2 linked regions of the Homo sapiens genome follow. The protein of the gene in region 2 purifies or fractionates together with the protein of the main gene of each other region. This does not show direct contact. Each region holds a gene or a part of one and is shown on either strand. Other genes may lie near its edges.

The links.
Region 1: the proteins of CPXCR1 (region 2) and DDI2 purify together in Homo sapiens (affinity purification with mass spectrometry; one large-scale study listed by BioGRID and IntAct). This does not show direct contact.

Annotation. Positions count from the first base shown.
Region 1 is NC_000001.11:15,648,432-15,652,253, reverse strand, and holds part of DDI2 (protein DDI1 homolog 2), read right to left. Parts: intron 2,535-3,822; coding exon 2,431-2,534; intron 549-2,430; coding exon 359-548; intron 1-358. UniProt on the Homo sapiens protein: Aspartic protease that mediates the cleavage of NFE2L1/NRF1 at 'Leu-104', thereby promoting release of NFE2L1/NRF1 from the endoplasmic reticulum membrane.
Region 2 is NC_000023.11:88,745,544-88,749,465, reverse strand, and holds the start of CPXCR1 (CPX chromosomal region candidate gene 1 protein), read right to left. Parts: upstream 2,242-3,922; 5' UTR 2,097-2,241; intron 149-2,096; 5' UTR 43-148; intron 1-42.

The sequences.
Region 1 (3,822 bases), on a different chromosome or scaffold from region 2:
AGACCCTATCTCTGCTAAAAATAAAAAATTAGCCAGGTGTAGTCCCAGCTACTCAGGAGGCTGAGGTGAGAGGACTGCTTGAGCCCAGGAAGTCAAGGGTGCAGTGAACTACAATCATGTCACACTGCACACTGCACTCCAACCTGGGTGACAGAGTGAGACAATGTCTCCAAAAAAAAAAAAAAAAAAAAAAAAGGAAGATCAAAGAAGGAGGTTAAGAAGACAAATAATGAACACATCTACTACTGGACCATGAGACTAATTAAAAACTGGAAAGGTTCCTACCCCTTCTGAAGCCCACACTTCCCGGGCTTACCCATCAATAACAAGTATTGAAGAGTTTGGCCATCCCAAATACCTGCATCCTCTGCTGATTTTTGAAGGGCTTCTGCTAATTCTTGGTCTGCAATCTCCTCTGGCCGTACATCCTCTCTTCCAGCCCCATATGCCAACCGGGCACACTCTGGTAGCTCTCCCTCAGGAAGAAAGGTGGTCTGGGAGCCTGTGGTGCCGATCACGAGTACATTTTTCTTCAGGTCGATGGAACACTTGGAAGAAAGAAACCAAAGAATAATAGCAGATAAAACACCATGCAGAAAAATTATGCTCCTTAATTTAAAACTCCAATCACAAATGGCCAGGCACGGTGACTCATGCCTGTAATCCCAGCACTTTGGGAGGCTGAGGAGGGCAGATCACCTGAGGTCAGGAGTTCCAGACCAGCCTGGCCAACACGGTGAAACCCCACCTCTACTAAAAATACAAAAATTAACCAGGCGTGGTGGCACATGCCCATAATCGCAGCTACTTGGGAGGCTGAGGCAGGAGAATCACTTGAACCTGCGAGGCAGAGGTTGCAGTGAGCCAAGATTGTGCCACGCAAGGCAATCTCCACAGTATTCTTTACTCCATGCTAATGCTAACTTCCTTTTTTGTGTATTTTATAACTACTTAATAGACAGTTGTGCACATATATGATTTACATCTATAAAGTTGGAGACTGCTGGTCTATACCATGACTAAAAAAATAAGGAAAGGCAGTGACAAGGTTTTATTGATACATACACTCATTCATTCATTCGTTCTATTTAGAATGCTGTGAGCCGGGCGTGGTGGCTCACGCCTGTAATCCCGGCACTTTGGGAGGCTGAGGCGGGCGGATCACGAGGTCAGGAGATCGAGACCATCCTGGCTAACAAGGTGAAACCCCGTCTCTACTACAAATACAAAAATTAGCCGGGCGTGGTGATGGGTGCCTGTAGTCCCAGCTACTCGGGAGGCTGAGGCAGGAGAATGGCGTGAACCCAGGAGGCGAAGCTTGCAGTTAGCCAAGATTGCACCACTGCACTCCAGCCTGGGCAACTGAGCGAGACGCTATCTCAAAATAAATAAATAAATAAATAAATAGAATGCTGTGTCTTATTATCAATATGATGCATCTACTTTTACAGAAATATTTTAAAATAGTGACATAAAAATATTGATTAGCTATATTTTCAATTGTTTTTAACTCAATTTTGTTTTTTGAGATGTGGTTTTGCTCTGTTACCCAGGCTGAAGTGTAGTGGCACAATCTTGACTCACTGCAGCCTGGTCTCAAGGGATCCTCTTGCCTCAGCCTCACGAGTAGCTAATGTACCACCACGCCTAGCTAATTTTTGTACTTTTTGTAGAGACAGGGTCTCACTAAGTTACCCAGACTGGTTTCAAACTCATTCTGGCCTCAAGCAATCCTCCCTCCTTGGCCTCCCAAAATGCTGGAATTACAGGCATGTACCACTGTACCTGGCAGGTTGACTGGATATAAAACCCTACTGTGAAAAATGTGAAGTACCCAGTGAGGTCTACAGCCATACCACCCTGAGCATGCCTAATCTCATCTAAATACCCAGTGGACTAACTGCTTCTTCAACGACGGCAGTATATCTCAAATTATTGTGCTTTAGAGTAGAAAGATAAATATCAACACAAATTAATATATTAATTATGCACCCTGTACTAAATAAACACTTTCACTCCCAACATATACCTTCCTTAACCTTGAAGGTCTTCTTCCCAAGTACTGTTTGATCAGCATCAGAGAATGCTAAAGACTTACTTGACTCACACTTTTTAGTCAGGTCATCAAAAAACTACTAATCAGGATCTAACCAGAATCTGAAAATTATACAAGGGAACCAAACTGTCCTTTACAATCTCAAAACATTTGGCAAGATTTAACAGATTCACAGAGAGATTTCACAAAAACAGATTCTATCTATATCGACACATCATTTCAACCTCTGTATAGCAACATAATTTAAGGACATTTCCAGGTTTGAAAAGTCGTTATTTCTTAGTTTTCCAGTATATGTAACCAATAAAAATAATGTGATAATGACCATATTACAAAAAGCAGATGCAAAAAAAATAAGTGAAGCTCTTAATTACCTGGTGCCGTTTAAGCATGTCCAGTCCCAGAAGCATGTCCATGGGCTGTTCCTCAAGTATAGAGAAGGAACATGGCAAAAAATCTCCTTCAATCTGAACCTGAGCTAAAAAGCACATGAAGAGAAAAGGTTATTGTTACGTACTTCAAAACAGAGACGGAGTTTCGCTCTTGTTGCCCAGGCTGGAGTGCAATGGCATAATCCTGGCTGATGGCAACCTCTGCCTCCCGGGTTTAAGTGATTCTCTTGCCTCAGCCTCCCAAGTAGCTGGGATTACAGGCATGTGCCACCACGCCTGGCTAATTTTGGTATTTTTAGTAGAGACGGGGTTTTGCCATGTCGGTCAGGCTGGTCTCAAACTCTTGGCCTCAGGTTATCTGCCCACCTTGGCCTCCCAAAGTGCTGGGATTACAGGTATGAGCCACCGTGTCCAGCTGAAAAGTTCTTTTCATTATTATTTTTTGAGACAGAGTCTTGCTCTGTTGCCCAGGCTGGAGTGCAGTGGCGTGATCTCGGCTCACTGCAACCTCTGCCTCCTGTGTTCTCTGATTCTCTGCCTAAACCTTCCAAGTAGATGGGATTACAAACACGCACCACCACGCCCAGCTAATTTTTACATTTTTAGTAGAGACAGGGTTTCACCATGTTAGCCAGGCTGGTCTTGAACTCCTGACCTCACGTGATCCACCCACCTTGGCCTCCCAACGTGCTGGGATTACAGGCGTGAGCCACTGCACCCAGCCAAAAACTTTTTGTAGAGATTGAGTCTCGCTATATTGACCAGGCTGGTCTTGAACTTCTGGCCTCAGGCAGTCATCCCTGCCTTGGCGTCCCAAAGTGCTGGGATTACAAGAGTGAGCCACCACACCCAGCAGATGACCTATTTTTAAAGAACTCCTTCCTTACACAAGATATTGTGTATTTTCTGCTAAAATCTTTAATTTTCCTTTCCACATCTAGGTTTTAGGGTTGTTTTTTTTTTTTTTTTTTGAGACAGGGTCTGCTACGTTGCCCAGGCTGGTCTCAAACTCCTAGGCTCAAGCAATCCTCCCTCCCCTGCATCTAGGTGTTTACTCTGAATTTGCTTTTGTGTGGTGTGGGTAGGGTCCGATTTCTAATTCATTTCTCCCCATGGATACCTCTTGTCCCAGCAACATTTCCTAACATTTCCCCATTGCTCTGTAAGACTTCCTCTCATTGATCAATGTTCATAGAATCATGGGTTTGTTTCTACTCATATCTTCTAGATAGTCCTTTGATATCTAGAAGGCAATGTTTTTCTAGAGTATTTTGCCCATTCTCACAATATAGGGCCCACGCCAAATTTAAAATGAGCACATCCAGTCTCACAAAAAATCTACCAGGATTTTGATGGCATCTCAATGGTTCTGTG
Region 2 (3,922 bases):
CTACATTTTAGAGACTTTCTAAATAAAGTAAATTGAACTCACAAAATTTGAGGATAGTATGACTGGCTGCTTCTCAGTAAGGCTGAAATGCAGTAATTCGGTGAGAACTGAAGTTGCTGGAGGTCATCTAAGGCTTGTCAGATGCACCCTGAAAACAAATAAAGATATTTTCATAAAAGAAAGGAAAAAATAGCTCCTGCACCTTCTTCCCCCAAGAAAAGCATCTATGCTGCTCTGCTGTTTGGTAGGGTCTTCCACTTGCACATTCAGGATAACTATGAGATTCATTGTTCCCTTCTACATTCTGAAATAGGTTTGTATATAAGAAATATCCAGTGTTAGGAAGGGGAACATCACACACCGGGGACTGTTGTGGGGTGGGGGGAGGGGGGAGGGATAGCATTAGGAGATATACCTAATGCTAAATGACGAGTTAATGGGTGCAGCACACCAACATGGCACATGCATACATATGTAACAAAACTTTATGTTGTGCACATGTACCCTAAAACTTAAAGTATAATAATAATAAAATTTAAAAAAAAAGAAAATTGCTAAAAGGGTAGATTTTAAGTGTTCTCACTACAAAAAATAAAGATAAGTATGTGAGACAAAAAAAAAAGAAAAAAATACATATGTAAATACACACACACACACACACACACACACAAAAGAAATATCCAGTGTTCATTGTGAATATACTAGTATATTTATCACATATATTTATGTCACTCAACTATGTTAAGACTGGTTTTTCAATAAACATAATATGTGATATCTAAAGGCGTATTGCCCTCTGAAATGTAATTACATCACAAAACTATGTACTTAAGTTTATTATTACTCATTAAAAATTAAACGTTCCCTGGAATTGCACAAGAAGGCTATATGTATTCTGTTAAACCTCTCAATATTTATTATTTAATGTTTGGACATATGTTTGGAAATAGTCAACAATCATATGTCTTTCTTATTTAATCTTTTTTTTTAAATAACTCAGCCAAATGACTGTGTTTACCACCGAGTCTGCTGTTTTCTTCTGTTTTCTGGTATTTTTAAAGTATTTAGTGTTCTATACTTCACTTACATAGAGCATTATAAATATATGTATTAAATATAAACACTAAAAATATATATACATTAAATATAAATTTTAATATATATTAAAAATAAACCAAAATGCTTCAGTGTATGTATACACACACACACACACAACATTTCACTGTTTGTTATACAGAAAACCAAAATCATTTTTTCCACAAAGATAAATGTAGATGTATATGCCTGATAGCTTTTAAAATTATAATGTTTAAAATCCTTAAAATAAATGACATTTGAGTTGATAATCAGGGCCCTGAAGAAGCACAATATTACACTTTATTCTAAATACCAGGGTTGTGTTTTCAAATATTCTCTTCTGACCAAGATTTTTACATAATGACCTGTTGAGAATCAAAAGATACATATGGAGTTTTAAAAGAACCTGACTGTTTTGAATCTTTCTAAATCAGTTTTGATTATCCTTTATATTGAAAGTAGTTTATTTGTATTCTATTTATACTGTATCCTCCAATGCCCACATGCTCTGGAGAAAGACATGCATTACTTCTAACAAAACTTTAAATATTTTACACTAAATTACATTAATGACTCATCAGCTCAATCAGACTTCTTTATGTAAATGTCCCATCTTTCCCTGCTGACAAACCCCTCCAATATACAAGTTCACTTCACCTCAGATGAAAGAGCTTCAACTAACATATGCCTTCTGATTCCCATGCACTCATGACTGGCCAGAAATCCCCACCATATCCTAATTTCTTCAATTGAGGGACCTTATCTTCTGTTTCTTTCAAATTTGTTAGTTTTACTTTAAAATGATTGCATCACTCAAAATGTTGTGACAAATGAAACCAGGAACTTTTCTGCATATGTTCATATCAAACATATGTGAACATATTAAATCCCTGACCCAGAGCGACAACTCTCAGAATAAGATCTACATCAACAAATGATAAATCAAGAAACCAAAGCTAACTTTAAAATAATTTCTTACGTATATTCTAAAATGGATACACAAGCTAAGAAGCACTTACTAAGATCCCTTATGCTTTCTCTTTCACTTTCAACTCACAGTTTATCTTCATTCTCATTCGTCAAAATCCTTAGGAAAGGTGTGCTTCACGGGGTCCTGCCTTCTTGACCCCTTTTCTTCTGCCCTCTACCTCTCCACTTACTCCTGTTTCACAGTTCTTTTGACTCTGCATCACAATGCCCACAAAACATGGAAACCTAGCAACCTAGAACCCTCTTCAGACTGTAGGGGGAGGGAATAACTGAAATGGCAAATTCAAAATCTTCTTTAGATGGCAGGCAAAGAGTTAAGGCTGGGAACACCCATGAGTTTATAACTCTTGCCGTATCACACACAAAATCCTAACTATATGCAATATTCCCAATATTGAAACAGTGTGAAGACAGGATTGCCAGATGTAATACAAGACACCAGTAAAATTTGAATTTCTTATAAACAATACTTTTTTAGTATAAATATGTACCAAATATGATAACATATTGAGAGGTGACAACATGCTGGCAGCTCTCGCAGCCCTCGCTCACTCTCGGCGCCTCCTCGGCCTTGGCGGCCACTCTGGCCGCGCTTGAGGAGCCCTTCAGCCCCCCACTGCAATGTGGGAGCCCCTTTCTGGGCTGCCCAAAGCCGGAGCCAGCTCCCTCAGCTTGCAGGGAGGTGTGGAGGGAGAGGCTCCGGCGGGAATCAGGGCTGTGCACTACGCTTACAGGCCAGCACGAGTTCCGGGTGGGCGTGGGCTCAGGGGACCCGCACTCAGAGCGGCCGGCTGGCCTGCAAGCCCCGGGCAGTGAGGGGCTTAGCACCTGGGCCAGCAGCTGCTGTGCTCAATTTCTCGCAGGGCCTTAGCTGCCTCCCCAAGGGGCAGGGCTTGGGACCTGCAGCCCTCCATGCTTGAGCCTCCCCCTCCTCTGTGGGCTCCTGTGCAGCCCCAGCCTCCCCCACGAGCGCTGCTCCCTGCTCCACAGCGCACAGTCCCACTGACCACCCAAGGGCTGAGGAGTGCGGGCACACGGCGGGACTGGCAGGCAGCTCCACCTGCGGCCTAGTGCAGGATCCACTGGGTGAAGCCAGCTGGGCTCCTGACTCTGGTGGGGACTTGGAGAACCATTATGTCTAGCTAGGGGATTGTAAATACACCAATGGGCACTCTCTATCTAGCTCAAGGTTTGTAAACACACCAATCAGCACCCTGTGTCTAGCTCAGGGTTTGTGAATGCACCAATCGACACTCTGTATCTAGCTACTCTGGTGGGGACTTGGAGAACCTTTGTGTCACACTCTGTATCTAGCTAATCTAGTGGGGATGTGGAGAACCTTTGTGTCTAGCTCAGGGATTGTAAACACACCAATCAGCACCCTCTCAAAACAGACCACTCAGCTCTCTGTAAAATGGACCAATCAGCAGGATGTGGGTGGGGCCAGATAAGAGAATAAAAGCAGGCTGGGGAGCCAGCAGTGGCAATACGCTGGGCTCCCCTTCCACGTTGTGGAAGCTTTGTTCTTTCACTCTTTGCAATAAATCTTGCTGCTGCTCACTCTTTGGGTCCACACTGCTTTTATGAGCTGTAACACTCATCGTGAAGGTCTACAGCTTCACTCCTGGAGCCAGCGAGACCACGAACACACCAGAAGGACCGAACAACTCCAGACGCGCCGCCTTAAGAGCTCTAACACTCACGGCGAAGGTCTGCAGCTTCACTCCTGAGCCAGCGAGACCACGAACCCACCAAAAGGAAGAAACTCCGAACGTATCCGAACATCGGAAGGAACAAACTCCAGACACGCCGCCTTTAAGAACTGTAACACTCACCGCAAGGGTCCGCAGCTTCA